Linked DNA regions of Homo sapiens: all the other regions are linked to region 2. Evidence: fine-mapped expression QTL. A gene starts in region 2. Each other region holds a variant in brackets. All regions are shown on one strand. Distances are from middle to middle.

Region 1 (8,190 bases), 68 kb before region 2:
AGAGTAGTTATGGAAGGACGGACTTGGAAAGGAGTACCCCTTCTCAAGACTGGGTTCATCGTTGGAGAAGGTGTAGTTGCATCCCACAAGATAGTAACCTTACTAAGTTTTCCAAGCCAAAGTTAGCCCACAATCACTGGACAACCCCTCTGGAGTACAGGAAGGCCAAGGCCAACATTGGCTCATAAATGCAAAGAGGGAGTCCAGGAACCACCATGTTCAGAATCCTCTCATCATCAGGGTGGCACATATTTACAAACCACACAGTAGGAGCAAGAAGCCAAAGGCTTCTTGGCCTTTGGAATCAGAAGTCCCTTCCTCCCACGAAGTTCTTCCAGTGCCCTCTATTGACATCGCTTAATATTGTGCTTGCAGCAAAGAAAAAAATGCTTAAAACTTCCTTGTGGCAGAGCAGATAAAACAGGGTGGGTTTGATTGAAAGTGTGAGGAAATTAACTGATAATTGGCACAGAAAAGGGACAGAGGAAGACCTCCGGGAATGGTCTAGTACTTCATCTGTGTGATAGTAACAATAAAAGGGTTCTCATTACATCTATTATTAAACTGCAAAGTAATATTTATGCACATATACTATATGTCATAATAAGATGTTGATTTTTAACAGTTATATCATGTGAGTCCCAAATTTCTTAAAAAATGGAAAAAATAAATAAAAAACAAGGTAATATAGGCAAAATTGTTTTGAATGACATGAAAAATGTATAATCCAATATAAGGAATTAAGAATTTGCCATTAGTTTTGAAAAGTCCACTTTTTGGAAAAAAAATATATAGTCAGGGTTCTCCAGAGACACAGAACTAACAGTATGTATCTGATTGGATATATCTCTTTCTAGATATATACTATGTATGTCTATATACACACATATATATCCTATTGATATATCTCTTTCTTAATATCGGTATCTATATTTATACACATACACATATATACATAGATGCAATTGTTCCTTGTACAACATGGGGTTGCACTACCTGGGTTTTCTTATATGTGAATTTTTTTCAATAAAAGTTACACCAAGTATACCCACCTCTCTTGCCTTCTCTTTCATGCCCCACCCCCCACCTCTGCCACCTCTGCCACCCCTGAGACAGCAGAGCCAACCCCTCCTCTTCTTTCTCCTCCTCAGCCTAGTGAATTTAAAGACAATGAGGATGAAGACATCTATGAAGATCCACTTCCATTTAATGAACAACAAATATATTTTCTCTTCCTTATAATTTTCTTCATAACTTTTTTCTCTAGCTCACTTTTTTGTAAGAATACTGTATATAATACATATAACATAAAAATATGTGCTAATCAACTGTTTTGTTATGAGTAAGGCTTCCAGTAAATAGTAGGATATTAGTAATTATGCTTTTAGGGAGTAAAAATTTGTGCATGAATTATTGACTGCATGGGGAGCAGTCAGCACACCTAACTCCCACATTGTTCAATGGTCAACTGTATATCTAGTAAGAGATTTATTATAAGGAATTGCCTCACATAATTACGGTGGCTGAGGAGCCCCATAATCTGCTGTCCATAAGCTGGAGACCCAGGAAAGTTGGTGTATTTCAAGTCCAAGTCCAAAGGCCTGAGAACCAGGAATGCTGATGGTGTCAGTCCCAGTCCAAGGACAAGAGAGACCAATGTCCCAGTTCAATAAGTCAGGCAAAGAGAGTGAACTCTGCGGTCCTCCACCCTTGTATTCTATTCAGCCCCTCAAAGGATTGTACAATGCCCACCAGCATTGGGGATAGCAATCTGCCTTACTCAGTCTACCCCATCAAATGCTAATTTCATCCAGAGACACTCTCAGACACATCCAGAAATAATGTTTAGCCAGATATTTGGGAACAATCATGCTCCAGTCAAGTTGACACATAAAATTAACCATCACAAAAGCAAATATTTACTTATAAAGTGATATTACTGCCAAAACATTCCAAGAGCTTAAAAATCTGCTTGTATTTCACTGAGAACAAAGAGCATGTACACAATTATTTACTTAAAAAGTAAGCAGTCTCTTATTGTTTGATGAATAATATTTTAAGCTATAAGTGACCTAATATTATCTAGTCCAATTATTAATGTGTAAATATGGAAATATTGATACCAGAAATATTAGTGTTTTCAGCTAGTAAACATCAGGGTCAGAATTGGAAACCAAATCTCCTTACATATAATTCATGTTCTTCCCTGAAGACTGTGTTTAGGATCTTAAGAAATCCCCCACGGGTGCAGAAATTTTATGAGTTTGAATGGAAGCAATGGTTATGGTCTGCTTCCATTTTCACTCATTTGATCTTTCTTCTTTTGAGTGGGTTTGAAGCTGAGCTGTATTACAGATCGGTAGCCTCTGGCAGTGTGAGAGGAAGATGAGCCTACCATAGTGGAATAAAAAATGAAAAGTGTGATAAGATGTAATAAAGTAAAATAAAATCCTTGCTTAATGCCCCAATAAACTGTCAGAGTTTGGGTATGGCGGCTTGTTGGGCTGTGCTTAGATGGGAGCAAGTGAGATCAGCACAGTGTTGAGCGAACATGCTGTTATTTAAGTTTTCAAAGTCATTTGAGTTAACAAAAAGAATGAATAACAGCACAATGTGCATCTCATTATGATATTTAGTTTTGATTAAAATCCAGCTTAAAGCAAATATTTGAAGCAAAGTTTTAGTTTATCTTATATTTACTTACATTTTAAAATAATAAATTCTGAACCAATTCTGTCATAGAGTTCATTAATTGTTTAACAATATGCGCTCAGACAATTATTACTATATTCTCATTGAAAATTGAATGCAGGCTATTTGAGGGACTTAGACAGAAAAACTTTTTCTTACTGAAAATCAGAAACCATGAGTCCTCTGTTGAGTTTTGACTTGTGAAGGAACCGTTTCCCTGAAATAGCTCTGACATCTTTCATTACCTGTATAATGTAAAATGCAGCCATTCAGCAGCTGGATGACAGTGATAAAGTGCAAACTAATAGTGTTCACCCTCTGCACTAACCCTGATGTACCTGGCCTTTTCAAAACAGGGAGGCTAATGTCTAACAAGTCATGTAAAAGTCAGAGTGAATGAACCTTAAAGTAAAGGCAACATAACATCCTTTGCATTGCAGTTTCCCTTGAAATAGCATCACTTTAAGTTCTATGTCAAAGCCAAAAGGCAGCGATTCTGGCTAAGTTTTGAAATGTGTGTTAACTTAACCAGAAAACAATCCAGTAAAAAGAAGGTTGAATCACTTACTGTCACTTGACAGTTTTAGCAGTCAGTTTTTGCTTTGGTAATCCAAGTGCTGGTACTGGCTTCAATATACTTTCCCTGAAATTAGAAGTAAGTAATTTTCAGTCAAAAGCCAGAGCAGAGGTTTATGAAATCATAAATTATTTTCATTGTAAAAGATACTGGGAATGGGAGACTTTCTTCTTGAATACCTACTAAGGACTGATGTTTTTGCATTTATTATATGCAAAATGAGTATGCATAACCTTGAAAAGTTCTTACTTTTTCTCATTTATCCTAATTATCCCACTGACCAAAAAAGCAACTGAAGTTCAGAGAAATAAAGGAATTGCTCAAAATCATGAATTCAGTAAGCGATAAGTCTCATATTTGTTCATATTTTTGTTTTAAATATATAGCATAACTCCTGATTTAAAAATGAGATATTCTGCTAATAACTATATTTAGAGCAGTAAAAAATACATAGTACATATATTTGGTTGGTTAGTTTAGTAATATTTTGCCTCATTCTCTAATAGAATCCTGGATCTACATCACACTTCTGAGGTTAAATGAGTAGGAAAAGGAGAGATTGTCAGAAGTGATACACTAGAGAAGAAAGGGTGATTGAAAAAATGGAATAGACAATTAGTAAATCAGGACTTAGGTGATCTGAGATTTAAAGCATATCAGCCTAAGAAAATACAATTAGGAGAAAAAGATTAGGACTTCAGAGAGGAAATAAAATGCTTCCTCAGCTCTGACTTAATCAGCCTGAGGGTTGTATAGTCATGATTTGTTTCTCTCCACTTCCTTCTTTTAGA[G/A]ACCTCTTAAATATTTTAAAGGCCTTACACATTCTCCTTTAAACAGAAACTCCAATAGAGAAAAAGCTAGGGCTTGATCTTTCAATAATTGTAAGTTACCGTTTGCTGCCCACATTCTTAGGACAAAATTTCGAGTTATATTTCCTTAGGGTGAAGATAGAACATTATTTTCTTAAGGAGTCTGGTTCTTCAAGAGGTAGGATTTTTGATTGGCTAAGTGTTGTGTTTTCAGTATGCCTTATGCTTCAGAGTCCTTCAAAAGGGACCATGGTAAATGTTCTTCACATTAAACTTTAATGTTATGACTATTAAGAATGAAATTTTATATTTTCAATGAGCCCAACCATGTACATTCCTCAAAGCACCCATCCAAAGGATTAACAAATAAACAATTAAACCCCATGTGTTAGAATGGAATTTCATACATTTTAAAGATATACAATATTTGATATATTGCTTAAAAAGGTAAGAACTTCGGATCATCAATCAACAAAGTTAAGGGTGAGAACAGTGGTTCTTAATTTGGGTTAATTTTGCCCCTTAGAGACTTTTAACAGTGACTGGAGGCATTCTTGGTTGTCACTAACAGAGGCTTGTGGTACTAGCAATTAGTGGGTAGAAGCCAGGAATATGGCTTAATGATTGTCAAAACACCCCTCCCCTCAACACAGACCCAAAACGATCTGATCTGAAATGTCAATAGTTCTGAAGTTGCAAAACCAGGGTCTAGAGGATGGTTAAAAGATATGTTTCCAAGGTACACAGTAGCACAAAATTGCAGACTTCATTGGGACTGTGGGCTGTGTCTAGGCATCCTAGGGGCACTGTTCCCACGGAAAAACCTATCACTAAGTTGACTGAAATCAAAGGGTAAACCTTGAGGCTGCTAGTCCTAACTGGCAGTGGAACTTATTTAATTAAACATACAAGCAGAATTGGAAATAAGAACAAATAATATGATGTGTAGGCTATAGGTTTATATCAGCTGTTACCAAGTTGTGATCCATGAGTCAAATGGAGCTCACAATATGGTCTTCAATTAAATTTCAGTATAAGAATTTAGAAAGCTGCCTCCTTCTTGCTAATTTTCTAATATGAAACACACAGACACACACACACAATTTTTTTTTCCATTAGAAGTATTTTGTACAATAAAGTTATTAGAGTTGTATACATTTAGTTTTTCCCTTTGGGAATTAGTAAAGTAAAAGAGAATTGAATATGTTTTTGTTTCCTGTTAAATGATACGCTCTCTTGGTATTGGTGTTTTTTTTAATTCTATTGTAGTGTTTAGATATTTTTAAATGATCATTTATCATTTTTTAAAAGATATATTTTAAAACTATTTTGTTAAATGTCACTTTAAATAGTTTTATTTTACATAAATTGGTTCTCATGCAAAAAATGCTAATTAAGGGTATAAATAACTATGAGTCATAGGAATCAGTATCTCTCTTAGGTGGACCATTAGAGGGGAAAAGAATACCCCAGTTTTAGGATAATAAACTTATTCAGTTTAGTGATGGCAATAAACTAGTATTTCCTGGAAATTTCCAACATTTCTATCTTTCTGTTTCAACTTTTATTTTAGATACAGAGGGTGTATGTACAGATTTGTTACATGGGGATTATTGCATGATGCTGAGGTGTGGAGTACAGATCCCATCTCCCAGGTATTGAGCACAGTACCTGATAGGTAGTTTTGTAACCCAGCCCCCGCTTCACCCTCTAGTAGTCCACAGTGTCTCTTGTTCCCATATTTATGTCCATGTGTACTCAATGTTTAGCTCCCACTTATAAATGAAAACATGAAATATTTGGTTTTCTGTTCCTGTATTAATTTGCCTGGGATTATGACCTCCAGCTCCATCCATGTTGCTGTAGAGAACACGATTTCATTTTTTTTTATGGCTACACAGTATTCCATGGTGTATATGTATAACATTTTCTTTACCCATTCCATCATTGATGGACACCTGGGTTGATTCTATGTCTTTGCTATTACGATGAGTGCAGTGATGAACATACAAGTACAAGTGTCTTTTTGGTAGAATTATTTTCTTCTGGGTACATACCCAGTAATGGGAATGCTGGGTTGAATGGGGTTTCTGTTTTAAGTTATTTGAGAAATCTACAAACTGCTTTCCACAGTGGCTGGACTATCCCTCATGAACATAGACACAAAAATCCTCAACGAAATACTAACAAATCAAATCCAGCAGCACATCAAAATTAATATACCACAATCAAGTAGGCTTTATTCCTGGGATGCAAAGCTGATTCAACATACGCATATCAATAAATGTTGATTTATCATTTATTTTATTGATTTACTACATTATTTACCAATTTAATGATTCACCACATAAACCAGAATCAAAAGCAAAATCATATGGTCTTCTCAATAGATGCAGAAAAAGGTTTTAATAAAGTACAATATCCCTTCATGATAAGAAACTTTCAACAGACTAGGCATGAAATAAATATACCTCAAAATAATAAGAGCAGTCTGGGTGTGGTTGCTCACGCCTGTAATCCCAAAACTTTGGGAGGTTGAGGGGGCAGATTGCTTGAGCTGAGGAGCTCAAGATCAGCCTAGGAAACATGGCAAAACACTGTCTATACAAAAAATACAAAAATTAGCTGGGTGTGATGGTCCACACCTGTAGTCCCAGCTACTTGGGAGGCTGAAGTGGAAGGATCGCTGGAGCCCAGGAGGCCAAGGCTGTGGTTAGTGGGGACCATCATACTGCACTCCAGTCTAGGTGACAGAGTGAGACCCTATCTTGAAAAAATAAAAATAATAAGAGCCTTCTACGATAAACCCACAGCCAACATCATATTGAATGGGCAAAAACTCTAACCATTCCCCTGGAGAAGTGAAACAAGACAAGGATGCCCACTCTTACCACTCCTATTCAACGTAGTACTGGAAGTTCTAGTCAGAACAATCAGGCAAGAGAAAGAAATAAAAGTCATCCAAATAAGAAGAGAAGCAGTCAAAGTATTTCTTTTCACTGACAATATGATTGTATACCTAGAAAATATTAAAGACTCTACCAAAAGGCTCCTAGAATTGATAAACAACTTTAGTAAAGTTTCAGGATACAAAACCAATGTACAAAAATCAGTAGCATTTCCATATACCAATAACGACCAGGCTGAGAGTGAAATCAAGAACACAATCCTATATACAATAGCCACAAAAAATTGAAATACCTAGGAATACAGCTAACCTAGGAGGTGAAAGATCTCTACAAGGAGAACTACAAAACACTGACAAATGGAAAAACACTTCATGCTTATTATGGATAAGAAGAATCAATATTGTAAAAATGGCCATACTGCCCAAAGCAATTTTCAGATTCAGTGCTATTCCTATCAAACCACCAATGTCGATCTTCATAAAAATTTTAAAAAACTATTCTAAAGTTCATATGTAACCAAAAAAGAGCCTGAATAGCCAAAGCAATCCTAAGCAAAAAGAATAAAGCCAAAGGCATCACATTACCCAACTTCAAACTATATTATAAAGCCACAGTAACAAAATCTGCCTGGTACTGGTTTAAAACAAAAGCAAAAACAAAATAAACAGACACATAGACCAATGGAACAGAATAGAAAACTCAGAAATAAAGCCACACACCTACAAGGTGATCTTTGACAAGGCTGACAAAAACAAGCAATGGGGAAAATAATCCTTATTCAATAAAAAGTACTGGGATATCTGGTTAACCACGTGCAGAAGATTGAAGCTAGACCCCTACTTTTCAGCATATGCAAAAATAAACTCAAAATGGATTAAATATTTAAATGTAAGACCTCAAAGTATAAAAATCCTGAAAGACAACCTAGAAAATACTCTTCTCAGCATTGGCATTGGCAAAGAATTTTCAACTAAGTCCTCAAAAGCAATTGCAGCAACAACAAAAAAATAGACAAGTGAGACCAATTAAACTAAAGAGCTTCTGCATAGCAAAAGAAACTATAGACAGGGCAAAAAACCTACAGAATGGGAGAAGATATTAGCAAACTATGTATCTGACAAAGGCCTAATATCCAGAATCTATAGGGAACTTAAAAAAATCAACAAGCAAAAAACAAATAACCCCATTTTAAAAATGGACAAAG
Region 2 (8,190 bases):
GCATGGTTCCTCATACAGTTGGTAATGCTTCAATTATAAAACATCTCCATTTTATACCCCAGCACTGCAAACACTATATGCCATTTTCCAGGAAGCCATCCCTTATAAATTCTGGTTCTATCTATTATAGGTAATCCTTAGTCAGATATCCTACTAAGGGCCCAAAGACAACCCTCTTCCTTCTAGCAAATACCATTAGTCTATTTACCCAGGGGAGGTAGAATTGACAAGGAGATTAGACCTGCTCACTTGTTATGGACTAAACGTTGTACCTTCTTCCCACCCCAAATTCATGTGCTGAAGCTCTAACATCTAATGTGGTGGTGTGTAGAGATGAGACCTTTGGGAGGTAATTAGGGTTAGACAGGTCATGTGAGTGGGACCTTCATGATAGGATTAGTTGCTATATAAACTGTGGCTGAAATGTCTCTGTTTCTTTTTCTCTCTTCCCCCCAACACACACTGAGAAAAGGCCATGTGAGGACATAGTTAGAAGGCAGCTGTATGCAGGCTAGGAAAAGAGCCATCACCAAGAACCAAATTGGCTAGCATCTTAATCTTGGCCTTCCAAGAACTGTGAAAAATGTTTCTCACAGAACTCCAGAACTGTGAGAAATACATTCCTACTATTTAAGCTACCCATGCGGTGGTATTTTGTTACAGTAGTCTGAACTAAGAAACCCCTTTTTGCTTCTTTCCCTCAAGGTCTCTCCCTGGCAGGAGTAAATGAGCAAATGTATTGCAGGCCAGGTTATTTCACAACTTTCACCTACCCTTTTTAAAAACAACAACAACAACAGCAACAAACATCTTTTTTAAGTAAAAGGCGGAGATACATCTGTTATACTTTTCTTTCCATGCAACCCCTCAAAGGCACTCTTTTATTTTATAAGGTAAAACTTACACACGGTTCCAAAATCAAAAGAACATAAAAAGTCTAACCTCTACCTTTGATACCATCTGCCCACTTACACCATGACCCCAACCAATTTTATTAATTTTTGGAGACAACACCTTGCTTCACCTTGCAATTTTCACCTAAAAATATCATGGAGACCTTTTTATACCAATTAAGGAGAATTTCCTCATTATTTTACATAGCAGCTTAATCTTCCATGATATGGATATTTTGTATTTGTACTGTAATGATCCAAGGTATAAAAGATGTTTTATAATATGAGCTGTTGAAATTGACAACTATAACACATTTCTATGGCATGTTCCTATGTCATTCTGTATTCAGTGTTGTCTGTGTTCTGAGGCTTTTATTTTTATTAGTTTTAAAATTGTGGCAATTAGCCAACATGAGATCTGTCCTCTTAATACATTTTTAAGTGTATAATACAGTATGGTTAATTATAGGCACATTATTGTACAATAGATCTCTAGAATTTATTCATCTTACACAACTGAGATTTTATAATAGCCTCCTCTGTTTTACATAAGAGTATCAACATGGAAGTAAACAATAAAAAGTTTTCTATATCCATAAAATTCCCAATGGCCTGACTCCCCTCTCTGAAAGGAAACCCATAACTCAGCATTTGGCATTCCCATGAAAATAATGCCAAGAAGACACTCTCCTATTTTAACCCAATAAGAGAAGTAAACTGGTCCTGTGTTTTGATACTCAAATAGATATTGACTCGATTGCATGAGAGGTAAGGAACTCATTTTTAAATTTGCCTCTTTTTAGCATTAACAACATATAAATTCCTTTTAGCCTTGAATAATTGAAAATGTGGGGACCTGGCTATTTGAACAGAGCAAAATGATGAATAGTGCAGGCTTCAGAGTCAGAAAGATACTGTGTAGGTTCCATACTTAATTGTGACAAAACAGATTTGTCACCTTAGGTAAATTTGCATAAGCCTCAATCTCCCTGTAATTTGAGGACATAAAATTTAGGTAAGCAGGTTGTAAACAGGATCAACTGATATAATGTACATAAATCACATTACATAGTCATTAAGTCATTACTCAATACATGGTCGCTTTCATCATCATCATCATCATCATATACATCTATTTTATTGTGTACTAGATTCTGTATAGATTCTGGGGAACAACAATGTAAATGACAAGATCCGTGCTCTCAGAGCTCACAGTACAGTAGCAAAGGCATACCAGTAAAGAAAGAATAGCTTTTATCTATGAAAAGACAGTACACCAATAGACTGAATGCTATGCTCTAGAGAAGTAAAAGGTGTTCTGAAAATGGCAGTTTGTAGAGAAATGATCTTAAGGAGGGAAAAGGATCAAGATGTTTCCATTGGAAGAGATATCATATATTTCAAATTCAATTATCAGAAAACATAAATACATAGACAACACTGGAATAATGCTGTAGTTATTTTAATTTGGTGGTGAAATCAGATTCTTGGATCTGACAGTATCTTTGAGTCTCAATAGTTTCTTTTCAATTCCATAGATAGACCTAAGGGTAGCGGGAATGGGGTACATCCTCTGATCCTGAGGTTTGCTCTCCTTGTTTGTTAAATAATTTCCCCCATAAAAGCAAAATGTAAAAGGCGAGGGGGAAAAGGGTGATCCTTATCCTCTTCCATTTTTTGAACAGGATCCATAAATCTACAGGTTTTTATTATTTTTTTTGAGGGTGCTTAAATGTCAAGAATATTATGCTATGGATTACCACTACTGCATACACATCGCATACATCAAAAACTCAAAGCAAGTAAAAAGACTTCGCCATGGCTGGTACAAGACTTTCCACAACATTTCCTACCACTGTAAGGCACCCTTCACGTATTAAAGTTAATGAATATGTAAATAACCTATGTTTACTTTAAACAGAAACTTCAGTTGCAGACAGTGGCCTGCATACCAACAGCAACCAAGAAAGGAATTTGAAGTCACAACCTTTTTGGAGAGGAGTCGCTCTAAATTCTGAATTTTCTTGAACCAAGTGAGTCTCTTCATTACAGCTCTGCAATTCATGCCTAATAGTCTGCAGAATATTTTATTGGTAATTGATAGGCTTATACAATCAGAAATCATAAGTTAAAGATGGCCTTTTGTTGGAAATAGTTTATTATAATTCTTATTCCCACTTCATTATCAGGAACAGTCATTTATTAATTAGGAATAAGAATTAGAACTCGAAGAGGCATCAAATATTGCGGCACGCAGACAATGTATAGATTCATACCAGGTTCCAAAATACTGCCGAACATCCTCCTCTTGAAAGGCTGCAAAAGAGTCACTGTCGAAGATACATTTTAGGACATCAAACCTAAAAACTCAATCCTGGCAAACTAATACACACGCAAACAAAATGCCTCTTTTTATTCCTTAGCACCTCATCACCGATTTCATTATTCACTTCTTCAGGCAAGCTGCGCGGGTTAGCTTCAAGCTCTTCCCTTAATTGCACCAGAAGTTAAGTCTGGGCGTTGGACATACACACTCTAAATCCTTACGCGTGGGTCTGTCTGTGAACAGCCCGGAGCAGCGGAGCAAGTTAGTGGGAGGGTATCGCCAACTGTCTGCTCGCTCCAAGTGGCAGCCTTCATGGATCCATCACCCCTAAACCCACAGCCCCTGTCACTGCCTCTGCACTGAGTCGGCTCAAACAGAATCCAAAGCAGGTTCATCCCTGAAATTCAGACTTGCGCCTGAAGTTACCGGTCCGGAGCCCCTGGGAGCCGCAACGCTCACTGTGGAATGCTCTGGATCGATTTCAGAGCTGTGAGTAGCGCTGCTAGAGGTCATCCTACAAGTTTCATCTTTTGTATTAAATCTTCACTTCTGCGCTCTGCGACTCCACGTTTGCCGCTCAGGAACTCGGTTCCCGGCAAAGTCAACCGCCTTCCAATTTGGAGAGGGACAGTCAAGAACTCCCTTGATTTTGAGGAGATTCTCGATGGAGACGGCGGCGGTGGGTGGCGGAGCGGAGCATCCAGCGCCAGAGCAAAGGAACCTGGTGCCATCTCCAAGCTGGGCAACTTTGCGTTTTCCGCTAGCAGGTCCGAAGCCATAGATATTCGCGAAGCCCCAGAGGGCAGAAATCCTCAGCAATCCTCTGTCTCACAGTTGAAAAGGCAGAGTAGCGCTCTGTTGCAATAGAAACTACGCGGAGCACAAATGCAAGCTTTGGTTAAAAAAAGCACAAAAAACAAAAAAACAACGGGCAAAAGTTTACTCTCTGTAAGCAATTAATTCCTGCAGCCCATTCCGGGTAAAACAAACTCCTCTTGGGAAGCTCCTTTCGTGGGAGTTGTGGATGACACGGGGGCGCTTCTGAGAGCGAAGTCTCTCCTGCCTGGGACGCCCCAGCGGTGTAGCACCCAGTGATCCCTCCCGACCGTCGAGGGAAGAAAAAGAAGTTGGGACAGGAGCTAGCCAGAGACCCGGACAGCTACTCCTGGTGCAAAACCTTGGAAATGGCTGCTAAAGGGGTTGGGTCTCCAGACTCCTAATCCCTCCCCTTTCTCCAGCTGAGCCGTTCACCTGCTACCGTCCAGTTTACAATATAAGCGTAGCACCTAAATTAACCCAGTTCCAAAAGCTAGGCACTACAATTCCCTAAGAAATTCATTTTCAAAACATCTAAGCGACTTTCGGGAGCTCCTTGGGGGAAATGTTACGAAGGGAGTGGGCAGGTAAAGACGGGATGCGAGGGGATTATGTTCACGAAGCGATGTGTAGGCTCCTCTATTCGAAGGACCTCGGGGAGCCCCTCAGCTCCCAGGAGAGCTGCTGCAGCCACTTCAATTCTCCACTACAGAAGGGGCGGAGGTGGCCCCTGGAGGGTGGCGATGGGAACGGGGCTCATCTTTAGTCTGGTGGCCTCTCGCTGGGTGTCGAGGGGGTGTAACTGGCTTCAAGAAAAGAGCTAGGGAGTTGAAATGCCAGACAGGGCAGAGAACGGAGAGGTGGCCCAACGGACTTAACGGCGTGCGGCGAGGAACTGCCTGCCGGCAATCCGCTAACTAGTGAGGATTGATTGACTCTTTCTGTCATCAGCATCCTTGGAACCCCTACCCCTCCTCAGGACTCCCGACTTTTCGCTCGCCACTGGCCGGGGGCCGCGGGCGCAGGGCTGGGCGTGCGTGTGTAGCTGCGCGCGCGCGGGTGTGCGCGCCTGTGTGTGTGCGCAGCCCGAGCTCTGAGCCCGGCTGCCAAGCCCCAGCCGGCTATCCTGCGTCCCGCCTTGCAGCCGCCTCCTCAAAGCCTCCTCACCTGGCGCCGCCGCCCGCCGCCCGCCCAGCCCCGCACCGGCGCTGCCTCCCCTGAAAGTTTCCCCAGCGTAGACACCTTCGCGCTGCAGCAGCCCAGGGAGACGGTGTTCCGAAGCTGTGCCTTGGAGTGGCTCTTCTTACACCTTTCCGCCTCATCCCCACCTAATTCGGGCAGGGAGTAGAAATTTTTCCAAATTAAGGGGAGAAAGGGGGGAGGGGCATTATCGAGAGAAAGCAAGAGGAGCGGCCGCAACTGAGAATATCCTGCCTGATGCCAGGGAATTGACTGACGTGTCTGTGGGGTTACGGAAGAAAACTGAATAGGCAGCCAAGTTGGCCCAGGAGGGGCTGGGAGGCTTCCGGGTGCCGGGAAGGTGGTCCCGGTCTCCATTTCCACTGGTACGAAGGCTTGGAGGCGCCTCTATGGTGAGGGCTTTTGAACCGCCATCCCCTCCTGATCCCTTGGAAAGGAGGAGCCTTCAGAGCTGAGGAGGGGGAAGTCCAGGAAAAGCCCCTGGACTTGTGTGCGTCGCATCCTTGGCTTGGGATTTTAAGGACACGAAGGAGAATTAACAGCGCCTCAAGGTAAGAGGCAGCAAAGCTGCTGCTTGAATTGCCAGAGACAATAACTTAAAATAGATGTTGGGGATGGGGTGGGGGTTAAGTCAAGTTAGGAGGATCTCTCCGGGCGTCGCTACGCGATCGCACGACCCGCCTGGCAAGTCAGGGAGTAGCCGGTGCGGCGCTGCCCAGCTGCGAGGCAGGAAGCCAGAGGAGTGTCCTGTCCTCACACTTTCTGAAACCTATTGGAAAACGATTTCGGACTGGGTTCTCTGTGGAGGTTGATATACAGCGTGGATTTGGGTTTTGGGTTTTCGTTTTTTTACCAGAGAGGTTTTTTTTTTAAATTTTTATTAGCACCGCAGACCCACCCCCAATTGCCATAGAGAGCTGTGGGCACCGGTGAACGCAACTAGGACGCGGTGGCAGGTGAGCCTGGCGCAGGTGGGCAGGTGGGGGCGGCGGCGGCACCCGGCCTGCGGACTCGGGGGCGCGCGAAGCCCACGCTGCCGCTTGGCCGGCTCCCTGCAACCGGCGTCGGAACCTGGGCGCCGCAGGTCGCCTGCTGTTCCCTTCGCCTCCGCTAGAGGCTCCCAGCGGGCGCCGCGGAGCGGGTGGGTGTGGGGGCGCCAGGAGGCGGCGGGGTGAGCGCGGAGAGCCAGCGTGCTCGCGGGGTGGCGGAGCCCGCGCGGCAGGGGCGGGGGACGTGAGCGGCAGTCCCGGCGCGCTTCCGAGCTCCGCACCGCGCCGCGGGGACGCAGGTCCGAACCCGGCTGAGCTCTGGAAAGCTGTGCCTTGAACTGGAGCCACTTCGGGGATGAGATCCTGACCCGCACCCTGAGGGCAGCCCCGGGAGGTAATGCCCTCTTTCTCCTCCACTCTCCTTTCGCCTCTTGGTTCTCTGTAAATTCTCAGTCAGATACTCAGGGTGGGAGGGAGTGAAGGGTGAGAGAGAGTCTATAGGGTCTGTATCTAAAAAAGGTGCCTTTCAGTGTTGCTCCGTGGTGCTCTGTTGTATGTGTATTCGAACTAATGCCCAATTTCCCCCGCCTCCCTTGAATATTTGGCTGCTTTAAGGGAAGTTTTTTGCGGAGAACGCTGGGTGGTTGGTCTGGGCCAGGCTGCTCCGAGGTGAGCTAGGGGACCTGCTGTGCCCGCTTTGAGCCGCAGTAGACTGGAGTGCAAGACTCCAGGGATGGGGTGTGGTGGAGAAAACGAGTACCACACCCTCTTCTTTTCCTCTTCACCTGCTGGTGAAGTCTCCCCATTCAGCATTTTGCTGATTTCCTTTTCCGAGGGATTGGCTCAGAGAACTGAGGAAAGCTGCTGAAATACTTGGAGGGAGGGAGGGAGAGAGAGAGAGAGAAGAGAAGAGAAGAGAAGAGAAGGATGAGAAGGAAGTCATGGTCTGAGCATCAGAAGAGGAAGGAGGGCGAAGTTAAGCTTGTGTGTTTGAGGTGGGGGAGTGAGTGCTGGGAAATGGCCTTGGAGTTCAGTTTATTTGATGAAGTCAGATTCACTTCACATTTCACACTTTGACATAATCCAGTTTGCTGAAGCCACCTAACAGATATTATCTGTGCTGTGTACTGCCTTGGGCTCAGTGGGCACTGAATATGTTTGATGAGTGTGTCTAAGCAATAGATAAATAAATAAATGAAAGAGTGCTTATTGTGTTTGCTTGGTGTGATTACCCCCGTGTCTGTCAGCCGGTAATGTATGTATTTTTCAGCGTGCTGTGCTGTGTTTGTGCATACCATATGTGGTCATTTTACACTCAGTAATGCAGTTTCAGGGTCTTGGAAAGGTGGCTCTTAACAAAGACGAATATTTAGAATAATACTAAAGGAAGACCAAAAATTACCATCGGGTGTGGAATATTCCAGGAATACTGAATAGAAGCTGAGATCCATCATTGGTGAAAATATTGGGCCACATACTGAAAGGGCAAAAAATATTTTTCAGAAATTAGAAGCAGTGGTTAACATTTTAAAAGAAGGAGATGTTCTTTAGGGTTCTGTCACCATCACCCAGTAGCATGCGTTACTCCCAATACAGTTGGAGTGTGAGGAAGAAAAAAAAATGTACTTCCTGTTCAAAACCAGTAAAATGTTTTGAGATCTGCCAGGTATTTCACCTTAAGAATTTAAATGGAATGGATTGCCTATTGATGGCAGAAGTGGTTTAGTTATGTAAGGCATCTATTATTTTTGATTAAGGTACATATATGTTAATATTTTTATATAATTTTACTGTAGTGGGAATGGAAGCAGGACAATTTATTGATGTTTTTCATTGCTGAATAACACATAGCATTATCTCAGGGAAGATTTATATAAAGTTTGTCATTCATGTATTATAGTGGATGATGCTCTGTGTGGAAGGCAAGAATATATATCTTGATGAAGTCCCAAAAAGGATCGTTTGT
Region 3 (8,190 bases), 350 kb after region 2:
CTTGGTGCAAAACTTATTATTAATCTCCAAATAAGGTAGGTTTTATAAAGTAACAGAAGATAAAATAAGGTAGAAATTATTAAGCATCTACTATGAACCAAGCATTTTCAAAACCATAGGAGATAAGTACTAGTATTCATATTTTATATTTAAGAAGGTAAGGCTCCAACATATAAAGTTCACCCAGTTAATGCATCAGAACTGGGATTTGAACCAACGTCTCTCATTCTTTCATGCTTATTTCACTCCTTATGTAGTGTTTTCAGTAGATTGCTCCTTCTACTTGTCATCTTATGTGCTGCAAAGATAAAAACCTCAGAGGTTTGAAGATGCAAATGTAAGCATCATTTGGTTACACTATAGTATAGCTGACAGTGTTCCTAAGCTTAATATTTTTATATATTACATAAAATATATAGTTCATTTTCTTATTTTCTATATTTTAATGCTGAATATATTGTCATATGACTAAGGTAGTAACACAGAGTATATGAAGTAAAATGTTGAAATCTCCTTTCTACTGCCACCATTGCTTTCCCTCCCACTTTCCATTCCTATTTCCTAAAAATAAACATTTTAAAGAAGTTGGTATGTGTGTTCTAGAGTGTTTTCTATATGCATATATATTTTCAATGAGCTTATATTATGAATATTGTTCTATTGTTTAATTTCATTTTCAATTAGCAGATTATTATGGCCACATTTTCATATAGATTTGCTGTATTTTAAAGTATTTATATATTATTTAAATATAATTTAGGCTTACCTCATTATTATATACCTTTAGTATCTACATAGCAATATTGAATTATAATTTATTTAACAATTTCCTTATTTATAAATATTTAAATTGGTTCCCACTTTTAATTCATTAAAAGTTGCCACAATCATCATCTGTCAATATATTTTACTCAAATGTAAACATTTCTGTAGATGTCTAGAAGGAGAATTTTTAGATAAAATTGTGTGTTCATTTTGAAATTTTGACATTTCCTACTATGTAGTACAAAAAAACATGGCAACTTACACTATTATTAATGAAACAAAATTTCTATTTTCTGTCGCCTTTGGCTGATACATGTTTTAATTATTGCCAATCTGATGGAATAAATATCTTGATGCTGTTTTCATTTGCTTTTTTAAAATATAAATTAAGTGAAGCATTTTCCCATACTTGTTGATATTTCTTTAGTACGATTTAAAAGTTCAAATAATTAGTTTACTTTTCTATGGTTTTATGTCCTTTTTTGTTGCTTCTTTTTATGCTTTTACTTATGATTGCTATAGACACCAAGTACGGTATATAAGCTGCAAATATTTTCTCCACATCAGGTATTTTTCTGTTCCAGATGACTAAGGCACAGTTTATGACCTCAGAAGGTCAAAGAATTGGAAGACAGATAAACGTATAAACCAATACACATGAATAGAAAATACTATACTAGCAGTAGGAACATTGGTCTGTGGGGTCCTGATAGAAGCTATAACCTCTGTATGGGGAGTCAGAGAATGTTTCACAGTGGACGTTATATTGGAGCTGTGTCTAAGATTGAACAAGAATTTTCTAGGAGGAGAAATGCAAGAAGTACATAAAGTCATTTTATGTTCACAATCATGAAGTTATATGTTTAGGTTAGAGTGGGAAGTACAGGTGGACTGGAAGATGACACACATGGGGTGGAATGGAAAAAAATAATGTTGTGCAGTTCGATTGTTGTCAGATCGTAATAAACTTTGTGGATTTTATGAAAAAGCAGTGCCTCGAAAATGAGGTATTTAAGCAGAGGATTACAAATATCAGGTATGGTTTAGAGAAAATGAGTAAAAATTGTGTACCATTTCAATGAACTGGCCATGTGTCTACAAATGGGAAAATAAAGTAACAAATCCTTCAAAGAGTGAAGGAGGGACTCAATATAAATGCATGTTATGGGTTTTTTTTTTCTGATTCTGAAGTGTTTTTAGCTTTACTGTTAATACTTTTATTTATCAGGTATAATAACGTTGGCTTTGAACATTGACTGATGTGTCCTTTCCTTTAAAGACATTTTTATGTAAGGGGAGGGAAGAATCGAAAGGCAGGGTAGGGTGTAAAACGAGCCCATAGGGTACTGAATCTTGGTGGGAAATTGGGAAAAGGGTGCTATGTTTATTATTTGTAGTAGGTGCAACAGTGGGAGTTGCAGTGTTGAAGGAGACATTGTTGTCCAAAATCACCTATTGATTTTTGACCTATTGATCACCTATTGATTTTGGACCTATTGATCACCTCTTGATCTGTGGGCTCCTTGAAGACAGGGACTAGCCATTTCTCATGCATCTTGTGTCTTCTTCCTCAGGCTCTGTCTACCACACAGTTCAAACCACTGGACTTTTAGCTAATTTTCATCTTTTTTCTTCCTGCTTGCTATTTCTCTGTCATACATAATTTAACATGTAGTTCCTAATTCAGACACATTGTCTCTTGAATTTCGCAAGTACTGTTTTCTTTATCTGGAATAGCCTTCTTTCTGTGACCCCTCCCCCCACTCCTTGTTCATCCTCTGGTCACCTGGTCAAATACTTTTAAACCCTCTATAGAAGTCAGGCTTCGTCTCTTTTGAAAAGACCTTTCTTATTGTCTAATTCTGATTAGCCACTTCTTCTGTAGGATCCTACACTTGTCCGTCATTACAGTTATGGCTGTACTGGAAATATTTGCAGATTTGTCAGTTTACCTGATGACTCTGAGCTCCCTGAAGGATGGAACATTAAGTATTCCCTTTGATTCTTCAATGTCTAGCCTAGTTTTTCCCTCATAGTAGGGGCTCAAAACATCTTTGATGAATGGATAATTAGATGTTTATCAAATTTAAACTAAATTTGAATTCAGTGTTCTAACTATGCCTGATCTTTGGCAGTGATAAATATGTATTTAATAAGTATATCATTTATTTTTATCCCATATTTAACAAATAGTCCTGAGCTAAAAGCAGGCCTGGAAATTTGTTATATTATCAAATCAGCGAGATATAAATTCCATCAAATATATCAGTAAATGATAATTGTGTATATAGTCACTTAAATATTGCAAATGTTGTGAGTTGGGGGCTTAAATAATATATTCCACTACTTTCTATCTTCATCTGCAAAACCACAGTGCTAAGCTTAATTTTCAGTTGCAAAATTTAATCTTTGAGGTTTGGAACAAACTCAACCCACAGGAACCAAATTATGTTTGCAGTTACTCAGCTGAACTGCTGTTCCAAATATAAGATTTTCATTAATGAGAGAAATAATAAGCACTGAAAGTTTACATGTTTTTAAAATGCTTATTTGTTTTCTGTTCTCTCATTCCCTTTCCAAAGGGGCACTCATTTATTCTCTTCAAATAACTAAACAATTAAATTTACCTACAAAACACTGGACTATTATGTGGACAGATTTGAAGTAGGATGAGTTATCTCTCAGATGACAGAAAATTACCCATGATGCCACTTTCGAAAGGCATCAATCTTGAAGCAGGGAGAACAAAAGAGAAAACATACACACATAACCACATGCATGCAGACACACACACATGCTCACTCACTCACTCACTATTCTATGTAGTCTCTGAGTAAATGTAGAGGTCCACTTTATAAACTGGATCTCTAGATATTACTGCTTAGACAAATGATCTTTGACAGTGAACTAAACCCTTCAATGACTGAAAAATACTTCCTGGAGTATAAAATCAAATGTCATCAATGAGGACTTATTCACAGAAAGGCATATTCAGCTGAAGGCAAATAAGTCATAGTATACTTCTGAAGGCAGGAGACTTTATTAAGTGTAAGCAAAGTTAACGACACACACTAGGTTAACAACATTCTTCCAAGCCTCTAGGGATCACCTATAATGAGTAAGAAAGGAAAGATTTGTAATTGAGATATTATCTATTTTTGTATAAATGGATATTTTACATAAAATCCTGAAAACTTTGTCTTAAGTAAACTGGATGCTTTTACAAAATGTTTAAGTATTATTAATATGTTTTATTATTTTTGGGTAAAAGAATTGTTTCATTGTAGGGCAAATGTATATTTGATTCTGTGTAAAATTTATAATTCAAACTTTATGTTTTTACCTAATTTTCTTTTCTCTATATATTTCACAAACACTATAGGTAATGTTGCATACTGGGACGTTATGGGGCAAAGACAAAACATGAGCTTTTAGACAAATCTAGCTCTGTTATTTAAACATTTGTTTAACCTTGGACAGATTACACTTTTTTGTGTGCCTCAACTGCCACGTGTTGAAGGCAGGGATTATGTGTTGTCTGTTGTCAGAAATCAGAAATAAATGAAGTAATACACATGCTTTATGGGTGCTTGATAATGAAAGTTTTTCTTTTTAAAAAATAGTTAAAATTCCAATAACTTTGTGATTCTCTGTAATTTATGGCAAATGTTTACATTGGTGCAGTAGGGGTAAGAGTTTGTCTTCTTTTTTTTTTTTTCTTTACTTGAAAGACATAGAGCCTGCCACATATTTAGCTCAGCTATGGCTAGCACTTGCTTATTATTGTTAGCAATCACTTGCTTTTATACCCTGACTTGCATTGTTTATTTTCAATATTTCAGGGCAAAAGAGAGATTTTATGAGAAAAGGGAGAAAAAAATAACCAGTAGGAGGATTGTATTTACTGTATATGCATTTTTCATTTCCTGTTCTATTTTTATTTTG[T/C]ATTATTTTACTTGCTCTACTATTTTCATTCTTTTTAGCTTTCATCACCAGGAAAGGATGCAGGCTTCCTTCTGAACTTGCCTTCCCACTCAGTTTACCAGCAGCATTTGTCATATTAGTGGTGTGATTTAGCCCTTAACTGCAGATTCCTCTGTCAGTTCTGCAGCTGTTTTACTTCCTGTCACCAGCAGTAGTTATTTTAAATAGAGCTGATATTATGGCCTGTATTTTGATATTATCTCTACCTTATTTGTTTTATTTCAGTTTTCTTGCTTGTGTGGGTTGAAAAATGTAAGATACAAGATTCTAAGAAATAAGGATGAATCTAGAAAATAAACTATAGTACAGAATAAATTTCTGTTTATACTTTTGAATCAGAACTAAGTTACTCACTTTAAGACCCCACCAACGACGTCTGTCCTCTAATAAACCTGATGCCTAGTTGGAGCCCAATTAAAAAGAATTCTCCATTAGCTGGAATTTACCCCCCGGTGATAGAAGAGTAAGAGAATAAAGTTAATTATATGAATTCATGCTCACATTAGTGATTTTCACACTAACAGCACTCAGAATTTTTTGGCAAAAGCAAAAATATCAATCTACTTCATATCCTGTAACTGCCTGCAATGTACCATATTGTGTAGCACTTAAGTCTAATTCACACCACCCTTCTTCTCTGCCCTGGGTGCCCTGGGTGTTGGCCTTCCTCCTCTCTGCAGCCTTAGAACTTGGAAAATATTCCTTTCATAGCATTGATTATAGGGTTTATGCTATAGTTCCTAATTGCAGATTCAGAATCACTTTGTATGCCCCGTGGTACTCTGAATTCCTTTGGGGTTAGGGACCTTATTTTTCAAATCACAAGCATAGATGGAATAACTGATGCACGGTTATTAACAGAGATGTTGACCACAAGTAGAAAATGACACAGGGGTTCTGGATAACCTTAAAAAAATACAATAAAGCATTCAATATGGTAATTCATTATAAAATAACTGCCTATTTTTGAAGTTAAATAGTGCAAGAGTTTGAAAAAATGGTGTTTTCTAATAATCAGTGCACCGGAAAATTAGTTCAACCAGAACATTTCATTCTCAGTGCATATCATTTATCTACTTATATAAAATAGAGAGCATATTTGACAGAAAATGTGGGAAAATTTTCTAAATTAGCTGAATGCTGTCTAAAGAGGGACTTGCATGAAGTTTTCTTGCATTCAGATTCACAAACCAAGCAAAGCCAAGTACCCGACTAACATAGAGTGCTACATATGGAGAGCATATTTGTCTTGTTTAGTGAAAGAATAGCAACAAGAGGTATAAAATATTGTAAAAACACACCCTGGATTATTTCACTATTATTATTGGATCAACTTAATTTTACATTTGGATTGGAATGGTTATTCAAAGAGCCACTTAAGATCTCTTTAAGTTGAGATGATTGTTTTTTGTTTCTTTGTTTTGTTTTGTTTTTTGAGACAGAGCCTCTCCCTGTCACCCAGGCTGGAGCGCAGTGGCACGATCTTGGCTCACTGCAACCTCTGCCTCCCGGGTTAAAGACATTCTCCTGTCTCATCCTCCCGAGTAGCTGGGACTACAGGCGCAAGCCACTATGCCCGGCCAATTTCTTGTATTTTTCTAGTAGAGACGGTGTTTCTCCATGTTAGCCAGGATGGTCTCGATCTCCTGACCTCATGATCCTCCCGCCTCGGCCTCTCAAAGTGCTGGGATTACAGACGTGAACCACCACACCCGGCCAGGGTGATTTGTTTTTAAACCCATGTCAAACTCTAAATGTATTCCACCCAACTAGTATGCCTGAATTTCACTGGGGAAACTGGCCTGATTCTTCAAGAGGTTTTGCCTGGGCCAGTTTGGGATTGAGTGTGACACTTGATGAAGAGCTGGAGGACCTTTGTATAACTGCTCCTTTACTCTGCCCATATTTCAGACAGGTTGCCTCATTATTCTGGAGTTCTCTTACTTCAAATTTTTCTGTCCCTGCTGCCTCTGATCTGGTGATGCTCACTTGTGTTCACCTACTCTAACTGTAGCAGCAGTTTTCCTTTTCAGCTATAGTATACCAAAAAATAAAATAAAAATCACGTTATTTCTTTGGATAGGCCGTGGTATATGTGTTCTCTTCTGCTTAGAACACTTACCCCACCCTTCTCATTGCTAATTCCTGCTACTCTTTCAGTTCTCTTATATATGGTATTCCCTTAGAGAAGACATCTGTAATCAACGCTCTTAGCACTGAATTAAGTGGCCTCTCCATGTCTCCATTAGCCCTATATGGAAACTTTTCATAACACCTATTACTGCTTTTTTCAAATTCTTGTTTTCTCCTTTGTATTTCTTGAAACCTGGAGTTTTTATATCCCCAGCATCTAACCAAGACTATGCCTGGCACATGATAAGCGCAAAACAAATATTTTTTTTTCATACATACATATTTTCTACAAATTTTTTATTTAAATATTTTTAATTATTCAGATACTTAGCAAGTTTGGCTTGGTTGTTATATGTGTGGTTGGTGGAGGTGAGTAGGGTATTCCTGAGCAGTGACCTACACTGACAGTGGTGAACTGCCTAGGACTCTTATGTTCATGAGCTTCTATAAAGCAAACTTTTAATTAATGTTGACATTTGATGGTTACTTTGAAAAATGTTGAAATTTTCAAAAGCATGAATTACTTGATTGATATTATGCTTACTAGGCTGGGAAGATTTATAGATTCTTTTCATTAATTATAAATGAAACCTTTCTTTTTGCTCTTTAGATAAAAGTTAAAAGGTGGGATTCTGGTTATTTTGCAAAGGAGAGTAACTTTATTGTTTGTTTTTCATTTTTTATTGGTGTGGTTTTCTTTCAGAGTTGAACCTAATATGTATAATATAGAATTTAGTTTTATAAACATTCTTGGACTTCAGCAGTCATATGAAAAAATACTTACTTGGACAAATATCAGAGGAAAAAACACTCAGGTTAAACTCATTTAATGATTGCCTTTGAACTTTTATTTTAAGTTCAGGGGTACAAGGGCAGATTTGTAACATTGGTAAGCTTGTGTCATAGGATATGAGATTATATGAGTATAAAGTGGGAAGCTAAGTAACTGAGGATATCTTTAGAACAAATTATCCCAGCAACACTTATATACTGTGATATGGATGTGAGAATTACATATAGTTTTATTATTTATTCTACTCCCTACTCCTGACATCTATATTAATAACCATGCCCTTTTATTTTGATGAGCAGAACCCTGTTTTTTCATCCTGCATAATGTCATGCTAGTTATTGTATTAGGAATTCTTTTAAATGAAATTTACTGGTATATAATATAGAAAGCATGCATTTATTTTTAAGTTTTATTTACTTAAAATAAATGTTCAGTGTTTCTTGTGTGTTTCAGCTAAAAGAGGGTGGTGCAAAACTGAGCATATTCTTCAATTGATTGTGAACTAGATGGAAATA

Evidence for each region.
Region 1: its variant is fine-mapped to the expression of LINGO2 in whole blood (TOPMed, PIP 0.98).
Region 3: its variant is fine-mapped to the expression of LINGO2 in whole blood (TOPMed, PIP above 0.99).

Annotation. Positions count from the first base shown.
Region 1 is chr9:29,278,154-29,286,343 of GRCh38, reverse strand. No RefSeq gene overlaps it. Among named protein-coding and RNA genes, the nearest start is that of LINGO2, 69 kb to the right of the region's middle. The variant G/A (reference allele first, on the strand shown) is at 4,060.
Region 2 is chr9:29,210,518-29,218,707 of GRCh38, reverse strand. LINGO2 (leucine rich repeat and Ig domain containing 2) reads left to right here and starts at 5,107. Exons shown (of 7, transcript NM_001258282.3): 1 at 5,107-5,786. RefSeq lists a silencer at 6,467-6,516.
Region 3 is chr9:28,863,778-28,871,967 of GRCh38, reverse strand. The region is part of intron 2 of LINGO2 (leucine rich repeat and Ig domain containing 2); the gene reads left to right. Among named protein-coding and RNA genes, the nearest start is that of MIR876, 4.2 kb to the right of the region's middle. The variant T/C (reference allele first, on the strand shown) is at 4,711.